Homo sapiens: one gene and its partners. The protein of the gene in region 3 purifies or fractionates together with the protein of the main gene of each other region. This does not show direct contact. Each region holds a gene or a part of one and is shown on either strand. Other genes may lie near its edges.

Region 1 (3,500 bases), on a different chromosome or scaffold from region 3:
TGTATTTTTAGTAGAGACGGGGTTTCACCGTGTTAGCTAGGATGGTCTCGATCTCCTGACCTCGTGATCCGCCCACCTTAGCCTCCCAAAAGTGCTGGGATTACAGGCGTGAGCCACTGCACCCAGCCGCCCCCCCATTTTTTTTTTTGGTCGTCCATGTAAATATGACTACAGGCCTGTATCACCATGCCCAGCTTTAAAAATTTTTTATGTTTGTAGAGACAGAATCTTGCTATGTTGCCCAGGCTGATCTTCAACTCCTGGCCCCAAGTGATTGTCCTGCCTTGGCCTTATAAAATGTTGGGATAACAGGCATGAGCCACTGTGTCTGGCCCTGCTGGGCCCTTGAAATGGCCAACAACTTCCTTCATCCCGGCTTCCCCTGTGCTTTTACTGCCATGTGCCTGCACCAACCCCTCCTTCAATTGGTGGGTTCCCTCAAAACCTTCACCTTCTGCAAAAAGTCAGGTCCTTTGTGCAGCCTTCCTCTGTTCCCAGGGCCAACCTCCCTCTCCTCTGGGTCCCCACTGCATCCCTGTGGACTGTCTGCCTCCCCCATATCTTCCAACAGACAGACTGCATTCCTGCAGCTTCTGCTCCCACAGAACTGCAGAGTGTGGGTGAAAGTTTTGCTTTCTTGAATTTACTAAGAGATGGCAAGAATGCTACAACTGATTGGGGCTAATCTAGGGGCAGGCCAGGCAGGGTACATGACTTTGGGGACCTTGACGGGAACGCATCAGCTTTAAGTGGAAATGAGAACAAGCAGCTTGGAAAGCTGTCAGCAAGGACAAACAGGACTTCCCAAGAGACAAAGCCCACCTCACTGAAATAACTATGGCTGCCTCACTGATGGAAGCCTTTGCTGGGAAGCCCCTGAGTTTTCATGATGCTCCAAAAAAAGAAAACTGCCCCTGGAGCCACAGGACTTCCATGGCTTTCATAGCTATGTTCAGGGATGCAGGGGCCTCCAAGAGCCCCAGAAGCAGCCTTTGTGAAGAGGTATGTAGGATGTGGAAGGGTGTGAAAGGGTGCTAGTCACAAACTTGCCAGCTTCCCACTCCTCCAAGGGCTCACTCTGCTCCTGAGTTTGTACATGGAGGATGTCTTAGACCAAAACAAATGAACATCCTACCTTCTCCTATGGCAATTAAATGTGGCCAAAGATTAGGATATAAAACATCTTTCTGATATGTATATTGAAAAAAAAACAACAAAAAACAAGCAACGACTAGAACTGGAGGGAAATGGCGGATGTTTAAAATTAGGGTTGAGCTGGAGAACCCAGAATGGTGATTATGGCTGAGCCAAAAAAACCAACCAACCCTCATAACCTTAGCTAGTGCCTCCCCAGGGCACTCACTGAGGCCGGCAGGTTCCCAGGGCCAACTCTGCAGGTCCCTCCTGCAGTACTTTTTTTTTTTTTTTTTTTGAGATAGGGTCTCACTCTGTCACCCAGGCTGGAGTAGACTGGTACAATCATAGCTCATTGTAGGCTCAACCTCCCTGGGTTCAGGTGATCCTCCCACCTAAGCCAAAAGGTCGGGTCCACCTCAGCCACCTCAGTAGCTGGGACCACAAGCACGTACCACCATGTCCGGCTAATTTTCGTGTGTGTGTGTGTGTGTGTGTGTGTGTGTGTGTGTGTGTGTGTGTGGCTAATTTTCGTGTGTGTGTGTGTGTGTGTGTCTGTGTGTGTCTGTGTGTGTCAGAGTCTTGCTCTGTCGCCCAGGCTGGAGTGCAGTGGCGTGATCTCAGCTCACTGTTGCAGTGGCGTGATCTCAGCTCACTGTAAGCTCCGCCTCCTGGGTTCACGCCATACACATTTCTCACCCTCCCGAGTAGCTGGGACCACAGGCGCCCGCCACCACACCCGGATAATATTTTGTATTTTTAGTAGAGACGGGGTTTCACCGTGTTAGCCAGGATGGTCTCAATCTCCTGACCTCGTGCTCCGTTGGCCTTGGCCTCCCAAAGTGCTGGGATTACAGGCGTGACTCACCATGCCCGGCCTTTTTTTTTTTTTTTTTTTTTTTTTTTTTGAGACAGAGTCTCACTGTTACCCAGGCTGAGGTGCAGTGGTGCAATCTCCGCTCACTACAACCTCTGCCTCCCAGGCTTAAGGGATTCTCCTCCTCAGCCTCCCAAGTAGCTGGGGCTACAGGCAGGCACCACCATGCCTGGCTGATTTTTGTATTTTTAGGAGACACTGGGTTTCACCATGTTGGCTGGCCTGGTCTCACACTCCTGACCTCAAACGATGCACCCGCCTCGGCCTCCCAAAGTGCTGGGATTACAGGCCTGAACCACCATGCCCAACTTCATTTTTGTGTTTTTCTGTAGAGACGGGGTTTTGTCATGTTGCTCAGGCTGGGATCAAGTGATCCTCCTGCCTCAGTCTCCCAAATTGCTGGGATTACAGGCATGAGCCACCATGCCTGAACCTCTCCATAACTCTTGATGGCTTCGCCTGCCTGTTCTTTCTGCCATCACCACCAGCTTTGTTACCTACACTGGTTTCTCCCCAGCCCCACTCTGAGTTTGAAGTAGTTATCTAATTTCCTCCCTGCCACACCCTACATCTTGATCTGGGTGGTGGCCACACTAGTGTACACAGGTTCACAGTCACTGGCTCTCCACTTAAGATGCACATATTTTACTGTACCTTAGTGATGCATTAAAAAAAACGGCTCTGCAGTTAGGTGTGGTGGCTCATGCCTGTAATCCTAGCACTTTGGGAGGCCGAGGTGGGAGGACTGCTTGAGGCCAGGAGTTCAAGACCAACCTGGCCAACACAGCAAGACCTCATCTCTTAAAAAATAAATAAATAAAATGAAAAAGAAAAGCTCCACATTACAGAATTAAAACAAAGAGAGAGGCCAGGTGTGGTGGCTCACGCCCATAATCCTAGCACTTTGGAAGGCTGAGGCGGGCGGATCATCTGAGATCAAGAGTTCGAGACTATCCTGGCCAACATGGAGAAACCCCATCTCTCCTAAAAATACAAAAATTAACCAGGCATGGTGACACATGCCTGTAATCCCAGCTACTCAGGAGGCTGAGGCAAGAGAATTGCTTGAACCTGGGAGACAGAGGTTTCAGTGAGCTGAGATGGTGCCACTGCACTCCAGCCTGGGCAACAGAGTGAGACTCTGTCTCAAAAAAAAAAAAAAAAAAAAAAAAAAAGCCTGGCGTGGTGGCTCGGCACTCTAGGAGGCTGAGGCAGGTGGATCACCTGAGGTCAGGAGTTTGAGACCAGACTGGCCAACATGGTGAAACCCCATCTCTACTAAAAATACAAAAATTAGGCCGGATGTGGTGGCTCACGCCTGTAATCCCAGCACTTTGGAAGGCGGAGGCGGATGGATCACGAAGTCAGGAGGTCGAGACCATCCTGGCTAACACGGTGAAACCCCGTCTCTACTAAAAATACAAAAAATTAGCCAGGCATGGTGGCAGGCGCCTGTAGTCCCAGCTACTCGGGAGGCTGAGGCAGGAGA
Region 2 (3,500 bases), on a different chromosome or scaffold from region 3:
GAAAATCAATGTGCAAAAATCACAAGCATTCCTATACACCAATAACAGACAAACAGAAAGCCAAATCATGAGTGAACTCCCATTCACAATTGCTTCAAAGAGAATAAAATACCTAGGCATCCAACTTACAATGGATGTGAAGGACCTCTTCAAGGAGAACTACAAACCACTGCTCAACGAAATAAAAGAGGACACAAACAAATGGAAGAACATTCCATGCTCATGGATAGGAAGAATCAATATTGTGAAAATGGCCATACTGCCCAAGGTAATTTATAGATTCAGTGCCATCCCCATCAAGCTACCAATGACTTTCTTCACAGAATTGGAAAAAACTACTTTAAAGTTCATATGGAACCAAAAAAGAGCCCACATTGCCAAGACAATCCTAAGCCAAAAGAACAAAGTTGGAGGCGTCACGCTACCTGACTTCAAACTATACTACAAGGCTACAGTAACCAAAACAGCATGGTACTGGTACCAAAACAGAGATATAGACCAATGGAACAGAATAGTGCCCTCAGAAATAATACCAGACATCTACAACCATCTGATCTTTGACAAACCTGACAAAAACAAGAAATAGGGAAAGGAATCCCTATTTAATAAATGGTGCTGGGAAAACTGGCTAGCCATATGTAGAAAGCTGAAACTGGATCCCTTCCTTACACCTTATACAAAAATTAATTCAAGATGGATTAAAGACTTAAATGTTAAACCTAAAACCATAAAAACCCTAGAAGAAAACCTAGGCAATATCATTCAGGACATAGGCATGGGCAAGGATTTCATGAATAAAACACCAAAAGCAATGTCAACAAAAGCCAAAATTGACAAATGGGATCTCATTAAACTAAAGAGCTTCTGCACAGCAAAAGAAACTACCATCAGAGTGAACAGGCAACCTACAGAATGGGAGAAAATTTTTACAATCTACCCATCTGACAAAGGGCTAGTATCCAGAATCTACAAAGAACGTAAAGAAATTTACAAGAAAAAATCAAACAACCCCATCAAAAAGTGGGCGAAGGATATGAACAGACACTTCTCAAAAGAAGACATTTATGCAGCCAACAGACACATGAAAAAATGCTCATCATCACTGACCATCAGAGAAATGCAAATCAAAACCACAATAAGATACCATCTCACACCAGTTAGAATGGCGATCATTAAAAAGTCAGGAAACAACAGGTGCTGGAGAGGATGTGGAGAAACAGGAACGCTTTTACACTGTTGATGGGAGTGTAAACTAGTTCAACCATTGTGGAAGTCAGTGTGCGATTCCTCAGGGATCTAGAACTAGAAATACCATTTGACCCAGCCATCCCATTACTGGGCATATACCCAAAGGATTATATCAAGGGAACCACCCCCGATAATTCAACATAGGACCTTTTCTATTTTCCCTAAGTGTCGGCTGGTCTGAGTAATAAAGGGAAAGACTACAAAAGAGAGAAATTTTAAAACTGTGTGTCTGGGGGAGACATCACGTGTCGGCAGGTTCTGTGATGCCCCCCTACGCCGCAAAACCAGCAAGATTTTGTTGTGATTTTCAAAGGGGAGGGAGTGTACTAATAGGGTGTGGATTATAGAGATCACATGCTTCACAAGGCAATAAAATATCACAAGGCAAATGGGGGCAGAGCAAGATCACACGACTGGGGCAAAATTAAAATTGCTAATGAAGTTTCGGGCACGCACTGTCATTGATAACATCTTATCAGGAGACAGGGTTTGAGAGCAGACAACTGGTCTGACTAAAATTTACTGGGCAGGAATTTCCTCGTTCTAATAGGCCTGGGAGACCAGGGCTTATTTCATCCCTTATCTGCAACATATAAGACACACATTCCCAGAGCAGCCATTTTAGAAACCTCCCCTAGGAATGCATTCTCTTTCTCAGGACTGTTCCTTGCTGAGAAAAAGAATTCAGTGATATTTCTCCTATTTGCTTTTGTAAGAAGAGAAATATGGCTCTGTTCTGCCCAGCTTTCAGGCAGTCAGACCTAATGGTTATCTCCCTTGTTCCCTGAACATCGCTGTTATCCTGTTCTTTTTTCAAGGTGACCAGATTTCATATTGTTTAAACACACATGCTTTACAAACAATTTGTGCAGTTAATGCAATCATCACAGGGTCCTGAGGCGACATACATCCTCAGCTTACGAAGATGACGGGATTAAGAGATTAAAGTAAAGACAGGCACAGGAAATCACAAGAGTATTGACTGGGGAAGTGATAAATGTCCATGAAATCTTCACAATTTATGTTCAGAGATTGCAATAAAGACAGGTGTAAGAAATTATAAAAGTATTAAATTGGGGAACCAATAAATGTCCATGAAATCTTCACAATTTATGCTCTTCTGCCATGGCTTCAGCCAGTCCCTCCATTCGGGGTCGCTGACTTCCCACAACGGATTATAAATCATGCTGCTATAAAGACACATGCACACATATGTTTATTGTGGCACTATTCACAATAGCAAAGACTTGGAACCAACCCAAATGTCCATCAGTGACAGACTGGATTAAGAAAATGTGGCACATATACACCATGGAATACTACGCAGCCATAAAAAAGGATGAGTTCATGTCCTTTGTAGGGACATGGATGAAGCTGGAAACCATCATTCTGAGCAAACTATCGCAAAGACAGACAACCAAACACCGCATGTTCTCACTCATAGGTGGGAACTGAACAATGAGAACACTTGGACACAGGGTGGGGAACATCACACACCGGGTCCTGTCATGGGGTGGGGGGAGGGAGGAGGGATAGCATTAGGAGATATATCTAATGTAAATGATGAGTTAACTGGTGCAGCACACCAACATGGCACATGCATACATATGTAACAAACCTGCACACTGTGCACATGTACCCTAGAACTTAAAGTATAATAATAAAAAATAAAAGAAAATACTTAAGGATCAATTTGACAAAGAAAAAAATACAACATCTGGACACTGAAAACTACAAAACACTGCTGAGAGAAATTAAGTACCCAAATAAATAAAAAGATATACTATGCTCATGGGTCAGAAAACCAAATATTGTTAAGATGTTAATTATCCCCAAATTCATCTATAGGTTCAATATAATCTCAACCAAAATTCTAGCAGGCTTGCTGGAAACTGACAAGATGATTCTAAAATTTATATGAAAATGCTTAGAGCCTCCAATAGCCAAAAGAACTTTCAAAAGGCAGTGCAAAGTTGAAGGATATACACTACACTACCTCACAACTTACTATAAAGTCGTAGTACTCAGGATAGTGATTACTATGGTATTGATGTAAGAAAGACACATAGAGTCCAGAAATAGAGCCACACATATATAGTCAATAAATTTTTATTGTGGTAAATATATATAACATATATTTACTATTTTAACCGTTTTTAAGCATACAGTTCTGTGGCATTAAGTAATTCACTTAATGAACTGTCATCACCATTCATCTCTAGAACTTTTTCATCTTTCAAAACTGAAACTCT
Region 3 (3,500 bases):
TCCAAGGAAAAACAAAGTATTAGCCAAGGAGTCCTTAGTCAGCATCTCTCACGATGGCCATCTCTGGTAGGAAGGACAAGGTGGAAGTTACTAGCCAGAGTGAGAGTATCTCAGACAGTCAGACCAGATGGGCCTGCTAGGATTTTCCAAGGTCTAGTGTTTGCTCTGGCTCAGTCCCTGCAGAGAAGAGCTACAAAGAGGCAAAATAGGCCTTCATCCATTGTAAATAACTTGTTTACTCCTCCAGCCTACTGCCCTGCTCCATTCTGTGAGGCCATGCTCTTGGCCACAGAACCCTTTCAAAGGCCAAAATCTCGGGTCTAGGGCATGACCAACAAAGCCCCCGGACAGTACTCAGGAAAAGGGAAGAGTCAAAGGCACTGTAGTTTCGAGAGGCATCAACAGAACTATTTTCATACACACAATTCCTCAATGGCTAATGTCTGTAAACCCACCACTTTGAGAGGCCAAGGCAGGCAGATCATGAGGTCAAGAGATTGAGACCATCCTGGCCAACATGGTGAAATGCCATCTCTACTAAAAATACCAAAAATTAGCTGGGTGTGGTGGCGCGCGCCTATAATCCCAGCTACTTGGGATGCTGAGGCAAAAGAATCGTTTTGAACCTGGGAGGTGGAGGTTGCAGTGAGCCTAGATCGCGCCACTGCACTCCAGCCTGGCGACAGAGTGAGACTCCGTCTTAAAAAAAAAAAAAGTTATTATTGGCCTGGCGCGGTGGCTCACGCCTGTAATCCCATCACTTTGGGAGGCTGAGGTGGGCGGATCACCTGAGGTCAGGAGTTTGAGACCAGCCTGACCAACGTGGAGAAACCCTGTCTCTACTAAAAATACAAAATTAGCCGGGCGCGGTGGCACGTGCCTGTAATCCCAGCTATTCGGGAGGCTGAGGCAGGGGAGTCACTTGAACCCAGGAGACAGAGGTTGCAGTGAGCTGAGATCGCGCCACTGTGCTCCAGCCTGAGCAACAAGAGTGAAACTCTGTCTCAAAAAATAATAATAAATAAATAAATAAATAAAATAAAAGTTATTATTACAGTCGAGTGCAGTGGCTCACACCTGTAATCCCAGCACTTTGGGAGGCCAAGGTGGGCGGCTCACTTGAGGTCAGGAGTTCGAGACCAGCCTGGCATACCCCGTCTCTACTAAAGATAAAACAATTAGCCAGTCATTGGTAGCGGGTGCCTATAGTCCCAGCTACTGGGGAGGCTGAGGCAGGAGAATCGCTTGCACCTGGGAGGTGGAGGTTGCAGTGAGCCAAGATCGCACCACTGCACTCCGGCCTGGGTGAAAGAGCAAAACTCTGCCTCAAAAAAAAAAAAAAAAAAAAAATTATCCAGGAATGAGGGCATGTCCCTGTAGTCTCTACCACTCAGGAGGCTCAGGCTGGAGGAAAGCTTGAGGCCAGGAGTTAAGGGCTGCAGTGAGCTAGGTCACACCACTACACTCCAGACTGGTCAACACAGTGAGACCCCCCTCTCTAAAAAAAGAAACTTGCTCTGGGTCCCCATGGCAATGGAAAATGACAGGAAGACAGAAGTGATCTGATTGGAATGCTGGGCTCTCCTGATGGCTAGTAGCTCACCTGTTTGATGATATATGTTAGCTCTTCAATTTCCACTGCTTTATCATCAAAGAGGGACTTGCGCTTTGCCACTACAGAGACAAACAAGAAGCCACAATGGGTGAGGTCAAGGACAAAGCTCAGGGAATATAGTCCTCAACCCTCTTTGATTTACTGCCCCACTTCTGAAAGACCCCAAGAACACTCACAGATTGTCAGCTTCTCCAGCTTGGCAAATGTGTTGCTAAGGTCTTTCCCAATGCGCCTGCAAATGACCACTAGTCAGACTGTGGGAAAGGGCAGGACGCCTTTTCCCACATAAGCTCCAGCATAACCAATCCCAGACTTCACAGCCAAGGCCACTGATTGCAAGTCTACTTTTCTTCAGACACTGTATCACCCCACCAGAAAGCTTCTCTCAACTCACTTGGCCATGAGGGTGAATTCACTGCGTTGTCGGACAGCACGCAAAGCTGGCTTATTTGTCTGGATTCCATTCTGAAAAGCAATGGCAGGAGGTGACAACTTTAGTTCTCCCTTCCCCAGTTCCAGCTTTCACTCTTCCTGAGGTGTCCACTAACCTATCTCTAGTGCTGGTGGCATCCATCAGATGATCTAGATTTATGAGTGGTAGTCGTTTAGAGTCCAGATTTGAAGAGCAGGTAGACCTGAGTTCAAATCTTGACTCACCACTTACTACTAGCTGGTGGATTTGGGGCGAGTTACTTAAAACATTCTAAATCTCTACTTTCTCTTCTATAAAATGAAGACAATCCACACATCTCCTATTGTTGCTAAGGTTAAATAACAAAAAGGCTGAAAAGTACTTCAGTCAACTACCTGGTACATAGTAAGCACTAAATAAATGGTATCTAGTATTGCCATTCTATTCCTCAAATCAGGAAATCAATAAGGATGATTGCAAAGCTCTTGGAGATCATACAGAAGAGCAGCTTTACCATGAGCTGAAAAACACTTCTTTATAACTTTTCTGTTTTTGAGACAGGGTCTCACTCTGTCTCCCAGGTTGGAATATAGTAGCATGATCATAACTTACTGCGGCCTCGACATCCTGGGCTCAAGTGATCCTCCAACTTCAGCCTCCCAAGTAGCTGGGACTACAGGGCACACCACCACACCTAGCTAATTTTTAACTTTTTGTAGAGATAGGGTCTTGCTATATTGCCCAGGCTGGTCTTGAACTCCTAGGCTCACGCAATCCTCCCACCTCAGCCTCCCAAAGTGCTGGGATTACAGGTGCCAGCCAGCATGTCCAGCCATCAGTAAAAATATTTAAAAATACAGTTACTCGGCCGGGTGCAGTGGCTCACGCCTGTAATCCCAGCACTTTGGAAAGCTGAGGCAGGCGGATCACGAGGTCAAGAGATTGAGACCAACCTGGCTAACATGGTGAAACCCCATCTCTACTAAAAATACAAAAATTTAGCCAGGTGTGGTGGCATGCACCTGTAGTCCCAGCTACTCAGCAGGCTGAGGCCGGAGAATCACTTGAACCTGGGAGGTGGAGGCTGCCGTGAGCCAAGATCCCACCACTGCACTCCAGCCTGGGTGACAGAGCGAGACTCCGTCTCAAAATAAATAAATAAATAAATAAACAAACAAACAAACAAATAAATAAATACAGTTACTTGGCCAGGTGCAGTGGCTCACACCTGTAATCCCAGCATTTTGGGAGGCCGAGGCAAGCAGATCACGAGGTCAAGAGACAGAGACCATCCTGGCGAACACAGTGAAACCCCGTCTCTACTAAAAATACAAAAATTAGCTGGGTGTCCTGGCACCGCCTGTATTCCCAGCTACTTGGGAGGCTGAGGCAGGAGAATCACTTAAACCCAGAGGTGGAGGCTGCAGTGAACCCAGATCACGTCACTGCACTCCAGCCTGGCAACAAAGAGAG
Region 4 (3,500 bases), on a different chromosome or scaffold from region 3:
ATTGTTCATCACCACCATCTTGTGGGCAAAGATGCAATAATGAAATTTCAGTCTAGACATCTTCAATAAAAGGCAAAGAATCTACTACTTCATTCCATCAAAACTAAAATGCTGCCAATTAAAGACATTATTTTAGGGACCGCTAAGAGAAAATACTGCCAATTAAACTATGACACCATCAACTATAAGATATATTCTAAATTCAGAGATATTAAAATGTGTCTTCAAATCAGTGAAATGTGGCATACTGATTTTCCTCTTCAGTTCTTATTAATGTTAGAGACCAAAAAAGAAGCATCTGAAACTGCAGCATAAGACTTTTTAGGGAAGAACTTAAGAGTCAGTAACACCAGAGCACACACTAAAAGAAATATGGAAATATTGTTCTGTACTTCTTGAAACATCAATTTTACGTAATTTGAGAATATATATGGGCCAGGTGCAGTGGCTCACGCCTGTAATTCCAGCACTTTGGGAGGCTGAGGCCAGCGGATCATGAGGTCAGGAGTTCGAGACAAGCCTGGCCAACATGGTGAAACCCCATCTCTACTAAAATTATGAAAAATTAGCAGGGTGTGGTGGTGCGTGCCTGTAATCCCAGCTACTCAGGAGGCTGAGGCAGGAGAATCACTTGAACCCAGGAGGTGGAGGTTGCAGTGAGCCGAGATCACACCACTGCACTCCAGCCAGGACAACAGAGTGAGACTCCATCTCAAAAAAAAAAAACAAAAAAACACTATATATATAAATGATGTTGGCATTTAAAAACTGCTAGGATTCATCCCAGCTTTAAAATTCTTTTTTCAGATTTTAATAGTCATATACATTATTAAATTCACCTTCAGAATAAATGCAAACATTTAGTAACAATGACAAGAAGGGTTAACATTTCCTAAACACTAAAAAACACTTTTTAAGCATTTTAATCCCATAAAATCCTCATCATCCAGGTGAAGGTGGACTTGCAACCCAGAACTGGCTGACCCCAAGGTCACCTCAAGGTCTACCACAGGATACCATGCTGCCTCCCAAACACCACCAGAGCAAATCACATGAGTGGCTTTGATATACAGATACAGACCTAGACAAGCCCACTTCACTTCTTTCCTTCTTACCTGGCTGAAGACTTAAACCGCTCTAAGAACTGAAGCCTCAAACTCTCATGGCCGGGAAGGTCAATCAAGGTCAGACTATTGCCCTGGGGATGGCAGCAATAACATTAACGTTTCAATACAGTTCCACGTTCACAATATAAACCTTTAGTATCATATATTGGCTACCAAACTGGTACCTAATTAACCAAACAAATGTTCACAAAGCATCTTCTACTCATAAAACACTAGTCAACGTTCTGGGGATGTAACAGTGGCCAAAGACACGGTTCCTGATCTGGCAAAATTTATGAGAAAGGTGAACATAATGTAAAATTACACATAAATATAAAATGAGAACACTGATAAATGTTTTGAGGGTACAGGAAAAACCTGTCTGGGGGAGTCAGGGAAGCATGATCTACCTGAGGCTTGGGAGATAAACCAGTGTGAGTATAGCAAAGTAGGAGTACTGTATGAGTATAAGCAAAAATGTGAAAACAGTAACAAGTACTCATAAACTAATAATGTAATATAAGAACTTACAATTTTTCATAGAGCATATTACTCTTACTGGGATCTCCAATCTTTATAACAAAGTACACTTTTATCATTTCCACCCTTAATCTAATTATTTAAATATTTATCTTCCAGACATATAATTTACTTGTTCCAACTCCGTCAGCATTTGTGTCAATTCCTGAGCCCCTACTGAGCAAATCTACGATGCACCCTAATAAGTTCTATTCACCATGCCAGGCTGCCATTCCTGAATATAAGGTCAAGGCCTGGAATGGTGAATAAAGTTTATATTCAGTGTAAACGTGGCTGTGCTCAACAATAAGACTCTTAGATGTGGCCTGGTACATGCAGCAGACCATCATTTCTTACATGTTCTACATTATCCACAGCCAACCATACCCACAGTTCAGAAGCAGGCAATCAGTATCCTGCACAGATTTAACACAATTCCAGCTGGGTTTATTATGACCTTACCTTTCACATAGCCTGTGCATTTCTTTATAGACAAATATGTTTTTTATTAGTCCCTCTCTTTTTTTTTTAAGTACTGTTAAGAGTCTGGAGATCCCAGGTTGGGACTTAACTGCTCCATTTCAAAAGCAGCACTATACCACACACCCTAAGCAATTTGGAAGATACATTACTAGGTATATTACTATCTAAAGAGATTAGATCGAAAACGTAAGGGGGTAGGAGAAAGAGTGAAGAGGGAAGGGAAAAATGCTCTATATATTCAGTAGAAATATTGATAGAATAGAAATATAGTAGAAATATAGAATAACAGAAGCCACATATGTAATTTTAAATATTCCAGTAACCATAATAAAAAAGTAAAAAGAAATTGGTAAAATTAATTTTAAGTTATTTAATCTAATATATCCAAAATATTATCTTTTAAAATGTAATAAAAAAAGAAATTATTAATGATACTTTACGTTCTTTTTTTCCATACTAAGTCTTCAAGATCTGGTGTGTACTTCACACTTACAGCATGCCTCAATTTGGACTAGTCCTAGTTTAGGTGCTCAACAGTCACATGTGGCCAGTGGCTACATATTAGAAGGTACAGATTTAAAGCATATCCTGGAGTATCCTAAGTTAAAAATCTAGTGCAGGTACTAGATGATCTTGCAAACCTGGAATTTCAAAATCTGAATCCTTGGGAGTTTAAAAAGGTCTGGGCCACAAAGAGTGTCATCATTGAAAAAAAAAACAAAGATATCGCTAAGATATTTAAAAACATGTCCCTTTATTTTTCTTTACAATCTTTAATTCTGGAGGCATGAGAAAGGGGAAAGAAGACAAAGAGAAGAAGAAAAGGTCTCAAACCACAATTCTAATTCATCCATCTATCCATCCACATCCTCCAACGAGCCCTCACTCCACTCACTCACCGAAACTTATTACATGGCTGGGTGCAGTGGCTCACGCCTGTAATCCCAGCAATTTGGGAAGCTGAGGTGGGCGGATCACTTGAGGTCAGGAGTTCAAGACCAGCCTGGCCAACATGGTGAAACCCCATCTCTACTAAAAATACAAAAATTAGCCAGGCATGGTGGTGGGCGCCTGTAATCCCAGCTACTCAGGAGGCTGAGGCAGGAGAATCGCTTCAACTCGGGAGGCAGAGGTTGCAGTGAGCCAAGATCATGCCACTGCACTCCAGCCTGGGCAACAGAGTGAGACTCCTGTCTCAAAAACAAACAAACAAACTTATGCATTACAATCGGTTTGGTAGTCACTGTCTACATTCTGAAGTTACAGAGGTATGTAAAATGTCTTTCCCATGATTCCTTATATTTTTTTTTTTTTTTTGAGACTTAGTCTCGCTCTATTGCCCAGGCTGGAGTGCAGTGGCGCAATCTTGGCTCACTGCCACCTCCACCTCCC
Region 5 (3,500 bases), on a different chromosome or scaffold from region 3:
AAATCCAGTTGTGGAATCAAATTGTGAATCCTATCAGAGATAAAGGCAAATAAAATATCACAGTTAGATTCTAAGAGTCTACATATGCATATCCAAGTAATTGAATAACTGTTACCATAGTACATTTGTAATGACAGTTTTGTGTTTAATCAATTCAGGAGCCTGTTGATAACCTTGGATAATCAGCCTGATTTCTCCATGCAAAATACAGTAATACTCTCAGCGAATAAAAAGCTCTTTCATTGTCCAATAAACACTTCTTTCAGCTCCACAGAGTAATTCAACAACTCAAAACTATTTAGGTGTTATTCCAATTATGTGGATAAAAAAAATTAACAATAAATGTAAGTACTTTGTGCATTATCACACAGATTTTTTTCCCCACTTTTTGTTGTGCCATTGCTCTCCAAGGTCAAATGGTTGACTGCTACCCAAGTAGAGGATTTCATCCAAAATGTAATACGGTTAGCAGTTAAATGTACTTTTATTTACTTATTTATTTATTTAGAGACGGAGTCTCGCTCGTTGCCCAGGCTGGAGTGCAGTGGTGCAATCTCAGCTCACTGCAATCTCTGCCTCCCAGGTTCAAGTGATTCTCCTGCCTCAGCCTCCCAAGTAGCTGGGACTACAGGCGCACGCCACCACGCCCAGCTAATTTTTTTGTATTTTTAGTAGAGATGGGGTTTCACCATGTTGGCCAGGGTGGTCTTGAACTACTGACCTCAGGTAATCCGCCCACCTCATCCTCCCAAAATGTTGGGAGTATAGGCGTGAGCTACCATGCTAGGCCTTGGACCTTTACTTTTAATATCCTTTTGTTTAGACAGCTGACTTTGAAGTAGAGTCTATTAAGTTAAGAGAATATCATATAGAGGTAGTAAAATGTGATAAGGACTATAAATATGGATGGGGAAAAACTAACGTATTAAAACATAGCTGGAAAATCCTAAAGATGAGAGAGGCTTAGGTAGGGACTAGAAATATTACACATACTTTCATAGAAATTATAATATCCTGAGATGTAAAAGCCCTGGCATAATAATAAATATCCTTTGTATAGCTCAGTGTCTATGTGGCTCATATACTTTAGATCTATGGATCTTCACCATGGTTATGCATCAGAATCACCGGAGATGCTTTTTCATGGTTATGCATCAGAATCACCAGAGATGCTTTTTTCAAAATATTTACATCTAGATCCCTCCTCACGAAATTCTAAATCAGTATATTTAAAGACAGAATCAGGCATATACATTTTTAAAGAGGTCCCTAGCTTATTATAGCGCACAAGCTTAGCAAGAACATTGCTTTTGATGCCAAATTCATTTTTGAATAGCACAATTTTAAAAGCACATGGAACCAGAGAAGGTTCAGAGAAGCTTGACATTCAAGATAAACGTTAACAAATGGAAGGGGACTCTAACAAGAAAAGGTATATGTTGTTAGAGAGAAAAGGCTCTGGGCTGTTCAAATGTATGAGCACTTTTTTCATAAGTGATCCTTAGGAAATCAAGCAAAAGAGTAAGTATCCATTAAGTGAACGACATTTAGTTGGTTGGATATCAAGTGCCTTTTGATTGCTTGGTTAATAAATTACTAGTAGTCTCTACTATTGAGACTTCTAAGACTACTCAAAATAGTCATTTGTCTTGTTTTTAACAATCATTCTAAAAACAGGATTAAAGATATATTGGCTTCCACTTGTTCCTCCCACTTACATGCGTAAGACGAGATGAAAAATGCAAAAGCATGGCAAAATAAACCTTATAGTTATTCCAAACACATTAGATACAAATGGACGGGAATCAAGGACTTACGATCTCTGTATTTCAAAATGAATAAAAGTTGAAATTCTATTATTTGCGAATATTAGATCAAATTTCTTAAAGTTAAAATCATAACCACTTACCATTTCAGCTAATAATTTATTCTGGGTTTTAACTTCATGGCCTATTTCAATGGAAAGCTATAAAGAAGAAGGTATACACAGGATTACTCACATAAAAGTATTCAAGTGTTATAAAGTAAAAATAATGTCATTCTAAGCATACACATTTTCTGAAATGAAACGGTCTTCTAGACACATAAACTCTCTTTTTCTGATACTTTTTCTACCAAGATCAATAAAAAATAAATTTGGAATTTCTACTCCTCCCAATTATGGACATTTCTTCTTTCCTCTTTATTTTAATTTCATCTTAATATTCAATTCCATCTTTTAATTTGGTATGTACTACTTCTCTCTGATTCTCTTAACCTTGTATGCTTTTATATCTTTATTATATTCCTACAAAAGCTACAAATTCCTACAAATATCTGTATATTTCCTTCTTACATTTTATTTATTATATTTTATAAATTATATATATATATTTTAACTTATTTTAGGTTTGGGGGTACAGGTGAAGGTTTGTTATACAGTTAAACTCATGTCACATGGATTTGTTGTACGGATTATTTCGTCAACCAAGAATTAAGCCTAGTACCCAACCTTATTACATTTTGAAAGATCTAGAAGTACCCATACAACCAATTCAAATCTAGACAGAAGTATTTAATATTTTCCTAATGAAATGTTACATTACTTTAAATATGTCTAAACTGATTTTTCCTTAGTTTAAAGGTTTTTGCTTTAAAATATGATAATAAATTGAAAAAAATAAATATTAGTGTTACTTACTTCCTGAAGCTCTGAAGAAAAGAGCCATAGCTTACAAAATACAATACTATAGCTAATTATGACAACTATTCAAACCAAAATCTATCTAATACTTTATAGGACAGATTCATCAAAGGCTTCACTTCCAAGATATTTAAATAAATAGAATCATCTACTGAAAATCTTGGTAAATCACTGCAAATATTGTTCTTCATCTGTGTGAAAGCACATGGGATAATACTGATACAAAACCATACTAGAATTCTATAGATCAGAACATGAGCTTTCCTCCCAGATTTAACAACTCAGAGATAATAAAGTAACTATAAAGCTAGACTGCCCACATTACTCAACTTCTATCACTGTCATTCATGCCAAGGAAAAATATTTCCAGGACATCACAACTTTCTTCTAACAAGTAATCTAAATTATCTACATTGGGGGGGTTTTTAAAGGCATTTAATTCTTAAGTCCTTCCAAGTGTTGTATTTTTAAAATTAACATTATACAATATTACTTAGTTCATAAATCAACTTTAGTTTAATATGACTTTGAAAACAATCCTGTTTCAAAATCTAAAGGTCTCCAGACTGAATGTAATTCGATTTTCCAAAGACTATATTGAAATACCAATTAAGTTTTATCAACATGGGCTTCTACTGAATGCTTTATAAGTGAACGTCATGTTCATTATAATGCAGTATCAATCACATATATTATTAAAATCATCTTCGTGTAATTCTTTGGTTCAATACAAATTTACTCAACACCATTGATAAGGAATTATGCTAAGTGCTATATAGAATATAAAGTAAGTACAATAGAAAACCTGCATTCTGGT
Region 6 (3,500 bases), on a different chromosome or scaffold from region 3:
TGAGGGCAACATATACATCTCATAAAGGATTTAAAAAAAAAAAAGAAAGAAAAAAAAAGACTGGAAAGACTGAAGAGCATTAAAGGTGCTGAATATTGTTTATTTTTAACCATGTATATGGTGAAAAGTGACAGCAAAAATAAATAAAACTCGCAGATAAAGAAAAATGTGAGTTATCCAACTGAGTATCTGCATGTATGCACTTCTGACAATCAACATTTTTAAGAACCTGTGTGTGAAGTGTCTTGATTGTTTATCTTAATAACCATGGTTTATTTCTTCAACTATGGGTATTGGACTACATAAACAAATGTGACAAGAATCCCAGTCTAGTAGGGGAGGCAAAACACTTATTTTCAAAAAGGTTTATAAAAAGGCAAACACAATGAAGTAAAGTTCTCTAGGCATTCATTGGGGGCTGAAATCACTTTTGGCTGAAGAGAAGCAGGTAAGCCTTGAAGGAGAAAGCAGAATTTAGGTTGGGCTTTCAAAAGATGAGTTAGTTTCTGCATTTGAAGAAAGGGTTGGGAAAGGGTAAAAGCAGAGAAGAAAGTAAAGTTGGGCAAAGGCGGCATCCACTCTACCCCAAAATATTTGTGTACTATGAGAAATATTTCAGCTATTTGGATGCTGATGGGAAAGACTCAGTAAAGGAGTCTAAAGATGCAGACAAGACATAGGATAAACCAAAAGATCAAGGTCCCAGAAATTTCAGAAGATTGAGAGATGCAAAGCACCTAGATCTGACAAGAGGAGAAGCAGCTGCATACAACCATGCTGAAGTCTGACCAAATTGGAGGGGAAAGGTGATGGTGTATTTATAAAATGACTAGAATGATAGATCTTGGAATCCACATTTGGTAAGGAGAGAAGTAAAAACAAGAAGACCTAATAAAGAAGAAGTAAGGAACAGTCAATGAACTGAGGTTTTGATAAAATTCAAGAACTAATGCAGGGACTTCTGTTTAAAATGACTAAACTAACTGATTGAACACAGCTGTCTGCTTTCAGGTCCTTCCAAAAATCCAATAAAAATCAGAGTAAAGATCTTTTTTAAAAAAGGCAAAAACACATAAAGACAAAGAAAATGGAAACAGGTGACAGATATCAATAGAACTGTGGAAACTGGAAAGCTAAAGGACAGTGTTAACTGTCTTAGCAGATCCGAAAAGGCTGATATTTGCCTGGGGGTGGGGAGGGAGGATGAGACGAGAATAGGGAAGGCAAGGGACAAACTATTCATGTTGCAAAACCCAGGAAGACTGGGGAATTGGAAGCACAGGTACATCTGAAGGCAGATGCACAGGCGGAACAAAAAATAAAGGAGTGGAGCTGGATGTGGTGGTGTGCACCTGTAATTTCAGCTACTCAGGAGACTGAGGAGAGAGGATTGCCTGAGACCAAGAGTTCGGGTCCAACCTGGGCAATATAGCGAGACCCCAACTTTTCTTTTCTTTTTTTTCTTTTTTTAAAAAGGGTGAGGTGGGGTGGGCTGGGCGCAGTCACTCATGCCTGTAATCCCAGCACTTTGGGAGGCCAAGGTGGGCAGATCACAAGGTCAGGAGACCGAGACCATCCTGGCTAACATGGTGAAACCTTGTCTCTACTAAAAAATACAAAAAATTAGCTGGGCATGGTGGCAAGCACCTGTAGTCCCAGCTACTCTGGAGGCTGAGGCAGGAGAATGGCGTGAACCCGGGAGGCGGAGCTTGCAGTGAGCTGAGATGGCGCCACTGCACTCCAGCCTGGGAGACAGCGAGACTCTGTCTCAAAAAAAAAAAAAAAAAAAAGGGTGGGGGGGGAATCGGCTAGTAATGCAGCCTTAAAACAAAAAAAGAAAAAAGTTTAAATAAATAAAAGGGTCAAAATCTGTGTAAGAAGCAGTAGACTCCTAAATTTCCTCTCTGACTCTGAGCAACCAGGCTACTACTCTCCCACCATAACAGAAGACTCAAGGTTTACTGTGGAAAGATTGAAGTAGGTGGTCTCTGGACTCTTAGACAACAGACTCAGCTAAAGACAGGAGTATCATGCTGAAAAACAAGAGATTAAATTAAAACCTACATACTTAGTTGTGAGATCCATCCCCTGGCTTCATTCCCTGAACTGGCTTTAGAACACTGGCAGTCTAGCTTATAACCCCCAGGCTGACTAGAGAACTCAAGGTAAAAGCAGCCCAAGAAAAACAGACCAACAGAAAAGCAATGAGAGAAAGGATGAAGGTTCCCTTCTCGATGATCCATTAAATGGAAGAGTAACCCAAGAAAACATCATGGAATCCAAGAATCAGTGGATCCAGCACAACAAAGAGGCAAAGGGAATTCCCTAGGACAGTGTTTATGGAATCCCATGACAGTAATTATCCAACAGACCTAGCGAACCAGGCCAGACTGGAGCAGGGAAATGGAGGGCTCTTGGGATACATATTTCCTTTAGCCAAAAAAGAAAACAAATCACCAGTCTGAACAATGAGGATATTTACAGTACTGAGATTTGAGGGTGACTTATTGTGGATACCCAGAAAACAAAATGTTAAAAAAAAAAAGAGGTATTTGATTACCAACAGGAAAAAAAAGGTTCCACAAAATTTTGTTTTAAAAATAAAACTTAAATATTAGTAAAACTACATAAAGATTTCAAAAAAAACTAGGTGACATTATTTGATATTTTTGAGCCAGCAAACTGGAAAACAGTGGGTTATGATCACAGCAGAATGTCTGAATCAGTGATTTGGAGGTGTGGTGACTTTTTTTTTTTTTTTGTACAATCTTGCTGTTTCCCAGGCTAGAGTGCAGTAGCGAAATCATAGCTCACTCAGTCTTGAACTCCTGGGCTCAAGGGATCCTCCTGAGTAGCTGGGACTATAGGCAAATGTCACCACACCCAACTAATTTTCCTATTTTTTTGTAGAAATGAGGTCTCGCTATGTTGCCCAGGCTGGTCTTGAACTCCTGGGCTCAAGGGATCCTCCACCTTGGACTCCCAAAGTGCTGGGATTACAGGCAAGAGCCAATGGGCCTGGCCTGGCTGGCAACTTTTTTGTTTTTTTTGAAATGGAGTCGCGCTCTGTCGCCCAGGCTGGAGTGCAGTGACACAATATCAGCTCACTGCAACCTCCACCTCCTGGGTTCAAGAGATTCTCCTGCCTCAGCCTCCTGAGTAGCAGAGACTACAGGTGCGCACCACCACGCCCAGCTAATTTTTGTATTTTTAGTAGAAACGGGTTTTCACCATGTTGGCCAGGCTGGTCTCAAACCCCTGACCTCAAGCGATCCGCCCGCCTCAGCCTCCCAAAGTGTTGGGATTACAGGCGTGAGCCACTGCACGCCCAGCCTGGGTGGTGGCTTTTTAGTAAAGACAAGATCCAGGGTGTGATTGTGTGACCAGGTGGCTAAAGAGAATGAAGAGGTAAAGGAATCAGAAGGCCAAAGTGTTAGCTGAACTGTCAATCCAGATGCTGAAGTTGCCTAAACGTGATGTGTTACTGCTGGATATTTTCC
Region 7 (4,047 bases), on a different chromosome or scaffold from region 3:
AGGTAACTGAAGGCCTGACTCTGGGCCTGTGTGCTGTGCCTCCACATTAAAAAAATCAAGATTTGTGCAACAGTTAAACGAGGTAATACGTGTAAAGCACTTGGAACAATGCCTGCACACACAGTATTACTTGTTAATATCTTGAGGGACTGAAGTGATCAAAATAACCCCTCAGAAAAGAAGACCTCAAACAAGGAAGGCTTTGCAGTAAACCTAGAGACAGCATTTGAGACACGGCTATAAAGAGACAAAGGAAGAACTGCATTGTGACAGCATGTATACAAAGACCAAAAAAGCTGGGAAACTACTTTTTCAACTTTGGAATCGGGTAATTATAGGGCACAAAGGACGTAAGTAAAGCGGTCTTATAAGAAAACAAGCTCAGGCCGGACGTGGTGGCTCAAGCCTGTAATCCTAGCACTTTGGGAGGCCAAGGCAGGCGGATCACTTGAGCTCAGGAGTTCGAGACCAGCCTGGCTAACATGGTAAAACCCCATCTCTACTAAAAATACAAAAATTAGCCGGGTGTGGTGGTGCGCGCCTGTAATCCCAGCTACTTGGGAGGCTGAGGCAGGAGAATCACTTGAACCCAGGAGGCGGAGGTTGCAGTGAGCTGACACTGTGCCACTGCACTCCAGCCTGGGTGACAGAGCAAGACTCCATCTAAAATAAAATAAATAAATAAATAAATCAGCTGGGACATGTGTTGTTTTAAGACATATTAGTAGAGATGTCCCTTTAGTGTTGCAGCTGTTAGTCATTGGAAACTAGTGTGGGCATCCCAAGCAGGTGAGGTATAAGTCCTACAAGTGAAATCTCTGAGAATCTTAAGTACTAATGGGAAGGAAAAAGGAAAAAGAATCAGAGCCAAGTTGGCACCAAAAGTTCCATCTGAGAAAAGCAACAACACAGAGCAGTGAATGTAGGCCATGGTAAAGACTGCAAAGACCAAGAACCCCAAGAAGGAGCTAAAAGATAATGCAGCAATTCCGCTTCTGGGTAAATACCAAAAAAATGCGAGCAGGGTCTTGAAGAGATATTTGTACATCCATGTTCATAGCAGTATCATTCACAATGGCTGAAATGTGGAAGCAACCCAGGTGTCCACTGACAGATGAACAGATAAGCAAAATGTGGTGAATAATACAATGGATTATTCAGCCTTAAAAAGGAAAGAAATTCTGATATATGCAACAAGATGCATGAGCCTTGAGGACATTATGCTACATGAAATAAGCCAGACACACAAAAACTATATGATTCCATTTATCTAAGGTCGCCAGAAAAGTCAAAATCACAGAGACAAATTAGAATGGCAGTTGCCATGGGCTGGGGGAGAAGGGAATGTGTTTAATAGACACGAATTTGATAAAAAGGAGTTCTGGAGACGATTGACAGTGATGGCTGCACAACACTATCAATCTATTTCATATCAATGCACTCACTACACGCTTAAAGATAGTGAAGATAAATTTTGTGTACCATTTTACCACAATTAAAAATATTTTTTTAAAAGAACTCAAAGAAGCAGAAAGTTTCAACAAAATAACATTTTTTTTTTTTTACATCCAGCAAGTCCTTGGCAAAGAACTCTCATCAAGAACCAGCTGCACTGAAGCAGGGAAAACAGAATCCAAACGGCAGATTCCATCAGATTTTGAGACAAGATGACCATAGATACCGACCATGTAGGGTCCTCCTTCTTTCGTGCCTGAGTCACCCCAATCCCTCCCACGAATGGTCTGGAAGTGTCTGTGTTACTTCTAACACGTTCCAGCAATTAAAGCGCCCCAGAAACAAGTAAAAGCCTGTAAGCCCTACAGATCCCATGCTTCATTTGCATCTTCCGTGTGGAATCCTTTTGTACCACTAGTGTCCAACTAAAAAGCGTTAAACCTGGCTTTCAGTTCTAGCTGGTTGTGATATAACCTCTTGGTACCTCAGTGACTTCACCCATTAAAAACAAACAAAAAAAAGTATATCACTATCTCTCATACAGAATTGTTGGGAAGCCCCGCAAGAAAATCAAAATATGGCTCTCAAGATGCGGCACCCAAGCTCCCAGAGTCAGAATCACTGGGTGGGAAGTGTTGGTCTAAAATATAAATACCGAGGCCTCAATCTACTAATTCAGAACATCTTGGCATGAAGCTTGGAAATCTGCACTACTTCACAGTCTCCTTAAAATTTTTACACGACAGAAATTTGAAAAACACTGAGTAGAGAACTATATTCTAGAATGGTATAAGCTCTTAAAGAGCTAATGTTGGTTCCTCAAAGGTAGAGTCCACGGCCAGATTCCATTATAGGAGACCAAGCCCGGACAGCAGACCCCGGGCCCTCCCCACCCCGCCCCGCCTCTGACTCGGACACCAGCCTTCTCAGACCCCGGGCACTCGGCCACCCCGCCCTGCCCCTACCCTTGGCCTCCTCCACCCTCCCCTCATCCCTCCGCCGACCCCAGGCCCACTCCGACTCGGACCCCCACCCCAGTCCTCTCCGCCCGACCGCCACGGCCCACCAGCCTGTGCCGCTCACCTGGATCTCTGGAAAAAGCTGAAGGAAGACACATCGTATGCGGCTTTGAGCAGCACCACCTTGGCCTCGCCTTTGTAGAGGACGCTGAGGCTGTACAGCTTCATGGCTCCGCGCCCTCAGGCCGCCCGCCTGCCCAGCTGCGGGACCCGTTCTCAGGGAGCAGCGCGGCCGCCGCCCCTCGGGACCGCCGCCGCCTACCGGCCTCTCAGCAGCCGGCTGCTGACGGGGCCACCGCCGGCTTCCTCCTCCTGGCTCGCAATCCACTTCCGGATCCGGTCAGCCTGGTTGAGGGTTCTCATACTCCGGATGCAGAAATGTGAGCCCGGAAGTACAATGCAGCGAGGGGCGGGATGCCACGCCTCGCGTAAGCTTGGCCCCTCCCTGCTCGCCAGGTGGAGTCGGGCGCGCGGCGGGATACCGTACTGTCTTGTGCTGGGTGGTGCTGGGCCTCCCACAGCGGCCTGAACCCTTCTTTTTTTTTTTTTTCTTTTCTTTCTTTTTTTAAAGTAAGCATTTTTTTTATTATTATACTTTAAGTTTTAGGGTACATGTGCACAACGTGCAGGTTTGTTACATATGTATACATGTGCCATGTTGGTGTGCTGCACCCATTAACTCGTCATTTAGCATTAAGTATATCTCCTAATGCTATCCCTCCCCCCTCCCCCCACCCCACAACAGTCCCCGGTGTGTGATGTTCGCCTTCCTGTGTCCATGTGTTCTTATTGTTCAATTCCCACCTATGAGTGAGAACATGCGGTGTTTGGTTTTTTGTCCTTGCAATAGTTTGCTGAGAATGATGGTTTCCAGCTTCATCCATGTCCCTACAAAGGACATGAACTCATCATTTTTTATGGCTGCATAGTATTCCATGGTGTATATGTGCCACATTTTAGGAGGAGCTTGTACCATTCCTTCTGAAACTATTCCAATCAAAAGAAAAAGAGAGAATCCTCCCTAACTCATTTTATGAGGCCAGCATCATCCTGATACCAAAGGGTGGCAGAGAGAGACACAACAAAAAAAGAATTTTAGACCAATATCCTTGATGAACATTGAAGCAAAAATCCTCAGTAAAATACTGGCAAACCGAATCCAGCAACACATCAAAAAGCTTATCCACCATGATCAAGTGGGCTTCATCCCTGGGATGCAAGGCTGGTTCAACATACGAAAATCAGTAAACGTAATCCAGCATATAAACAGAACCAAAGACAAAAACCACATGATTATCTCAATAGATGCAGAAAAGGCCTTTGACAAAATTCAACAACCCTCATGCTAAAAACTCTCAATAAATTAGGTATTGATGGGACGTATCTCAAAATAATAAGAGCTATCTATGACAAACCCACAGCCAATATCATACTGAATGGACAAAAACTGGAAGCATTCCCTTTGAAAACTGGCACAAGACTGGGATGCCCTCTCTCACCACTCCTTTTCAACATAGTGTTGGAAGTTCTGGCCAGGGCAATCAGGTAGGAGAAGGAAATAAAGGGTATTCAA

Evidence for each region.
Region 1: the proteins of STX5 (region 3) and SNAP29 purify together in Homo sapiens (affinity purification with mass spectrometry; 4 studies listed by BioGRID and IntAct, with this or other methods). This does not show direct contact.
Region 2: the proteins of STX5 (region 3) and VAMP4 purify together in Homo sapiens (affinity purification with mass spectrometry; 3 studies listed by BioGRID and IntAct, with this or other methods). This does not show direct contact.
Region 4: the proteins of STX5 (region 3) and SRPRB purify together in Homo sapiens (affinity purification with mass spectrometry; 3 studies listed by BioGRID and IntAct, with this or other methods). This does not show direct contact.
Region 5: the proteins of STX5 (region 3) and BET1 purify together in Homo sapiens (affinity purification with mass spectrometry; 3 studies listed by BioGRID and IntAct, with this or other methods). This does not show direct contact.
Region 6: the proteins of STX5 (region 3) and TNPO3 purify together in Homo sapiens (affinity purification with mass spectrometry; 3 studies listed by BioGRID and IntAct, with this or other methods). This does not show direct contact.
Region 7: the proteins of STX5 (region 3) and YKT6 purify together in Homo sapiens (affinity purification with mass spectrometry; 3 studies listed by BioGRID and IntAct, with this or other methods). This does not show direct contact.

What each region holds. Positions count from the first base shown.
Region 1 is NC_000022.11:20,872,507-20,876,006, reverse strand, and holds part of SNAP29 (synaptosomal-associated protein 29), read right to left. Parts: intron 1-3,500. UniProt on the Homo sapiens protein: SNAREs, soluble N-ethylmaleimide-sensitive factor-attachment protein receptors, are essential proteins for fusion of cellular membranes.
Region 2 is NC_000001.11:171,721,566-171,725,065, forward strand, and holds part of VAMP4 (vesicle-associated membrane protein 4), read right to left. Parts: intron 1-3,500. UniProt on the Homo sapiens protein: Involved in the pathway that functions to remove an inhibitor (probably synaptotagmin-4) of calcium-triggered exocytosis during the maturation of secretory granules.
Region 3 is NC_000011.10:62,825,552-62,829,051, forward strand, and holds part of STX5 (syntaxin-5), read right to left. Parts: intron 2,081-3,500; coding exon 2,010-2,080; intron 1,848-2,009; coding exon 1,792-1,847; intron 1,675-1,791; coding exon 1,604-1,674; intron 1-1,603. UniProt on the Homo sapiens protein: Mediates endoplasmic reticulum to Golgi transport.
Region 4 is NC_000003.12:133,808,815-133,812,314, reverse strand, and holds part of SRPRB (signal recognition particle receptor subunit beta), read right to left. Parts: intron 1,199-3,500; coding exon 1,116-1,198; intron 1-1,115. UniProt on the Homo sapiens protein: Component of the signal recognition particle (SRP) complex receptor (SR). Ensures, in conjunction with the SRP complex, the correct targeting of the nascent secretory proteins to the endoplasmic reticulum membrane system.
Region 5 is NC_000007.14:93,994,356-93,997,855, forward strand, and holds part of BET1 (BET1 homolog), read right to left. Parts: intron 1,967-3,500; coding exon 1,910-1,966; intron 31-1,909; coding exon 1-30. UniProt on the Homo sapiens protein: Required for vesicular transport from the ER to the Golgi complex. Functions as a SNARE involved in the docking process of ER-derived vesicles with the cis-Golgi membrane.
Region 6 is NC_000007.14:129,048,612-129,052,111, forward strand, and holds part of TNPO3 (transportin-3), read right to left. Parts: intron 1-3,500. UniProt on the Homo sapiens protein: Importin, which transports target proteins into the nucleus. Specifically mediates the nuclear import of splicing factor serine/arginine (SR) proteins, such as RBM4, SFRS1 and SFRS2, by recognizing phosphorylated SR domains.
Region 7 is NC_000007.14:44,199,731-44,203,777, reverse strand, and holds the start of YKT6 (synaptobrevin homolog YKT6), read right to left. Parts: upstream 2,801-4,047; 5' UTR 2,643-2,800; coding exon 2,539-2,642; intron 1-2,538. UniProt on the Homo sapiens protein: Vesicular soluble NSF attachment protein receptor (v-SNARE) mediating vesicle docking and fusion to a specific acceptor cellular compartment. Functions in endoplasmic reticulum to Golgi transport; as part of a SNARE complex composed of GOSR1, GOSR2 and STX5.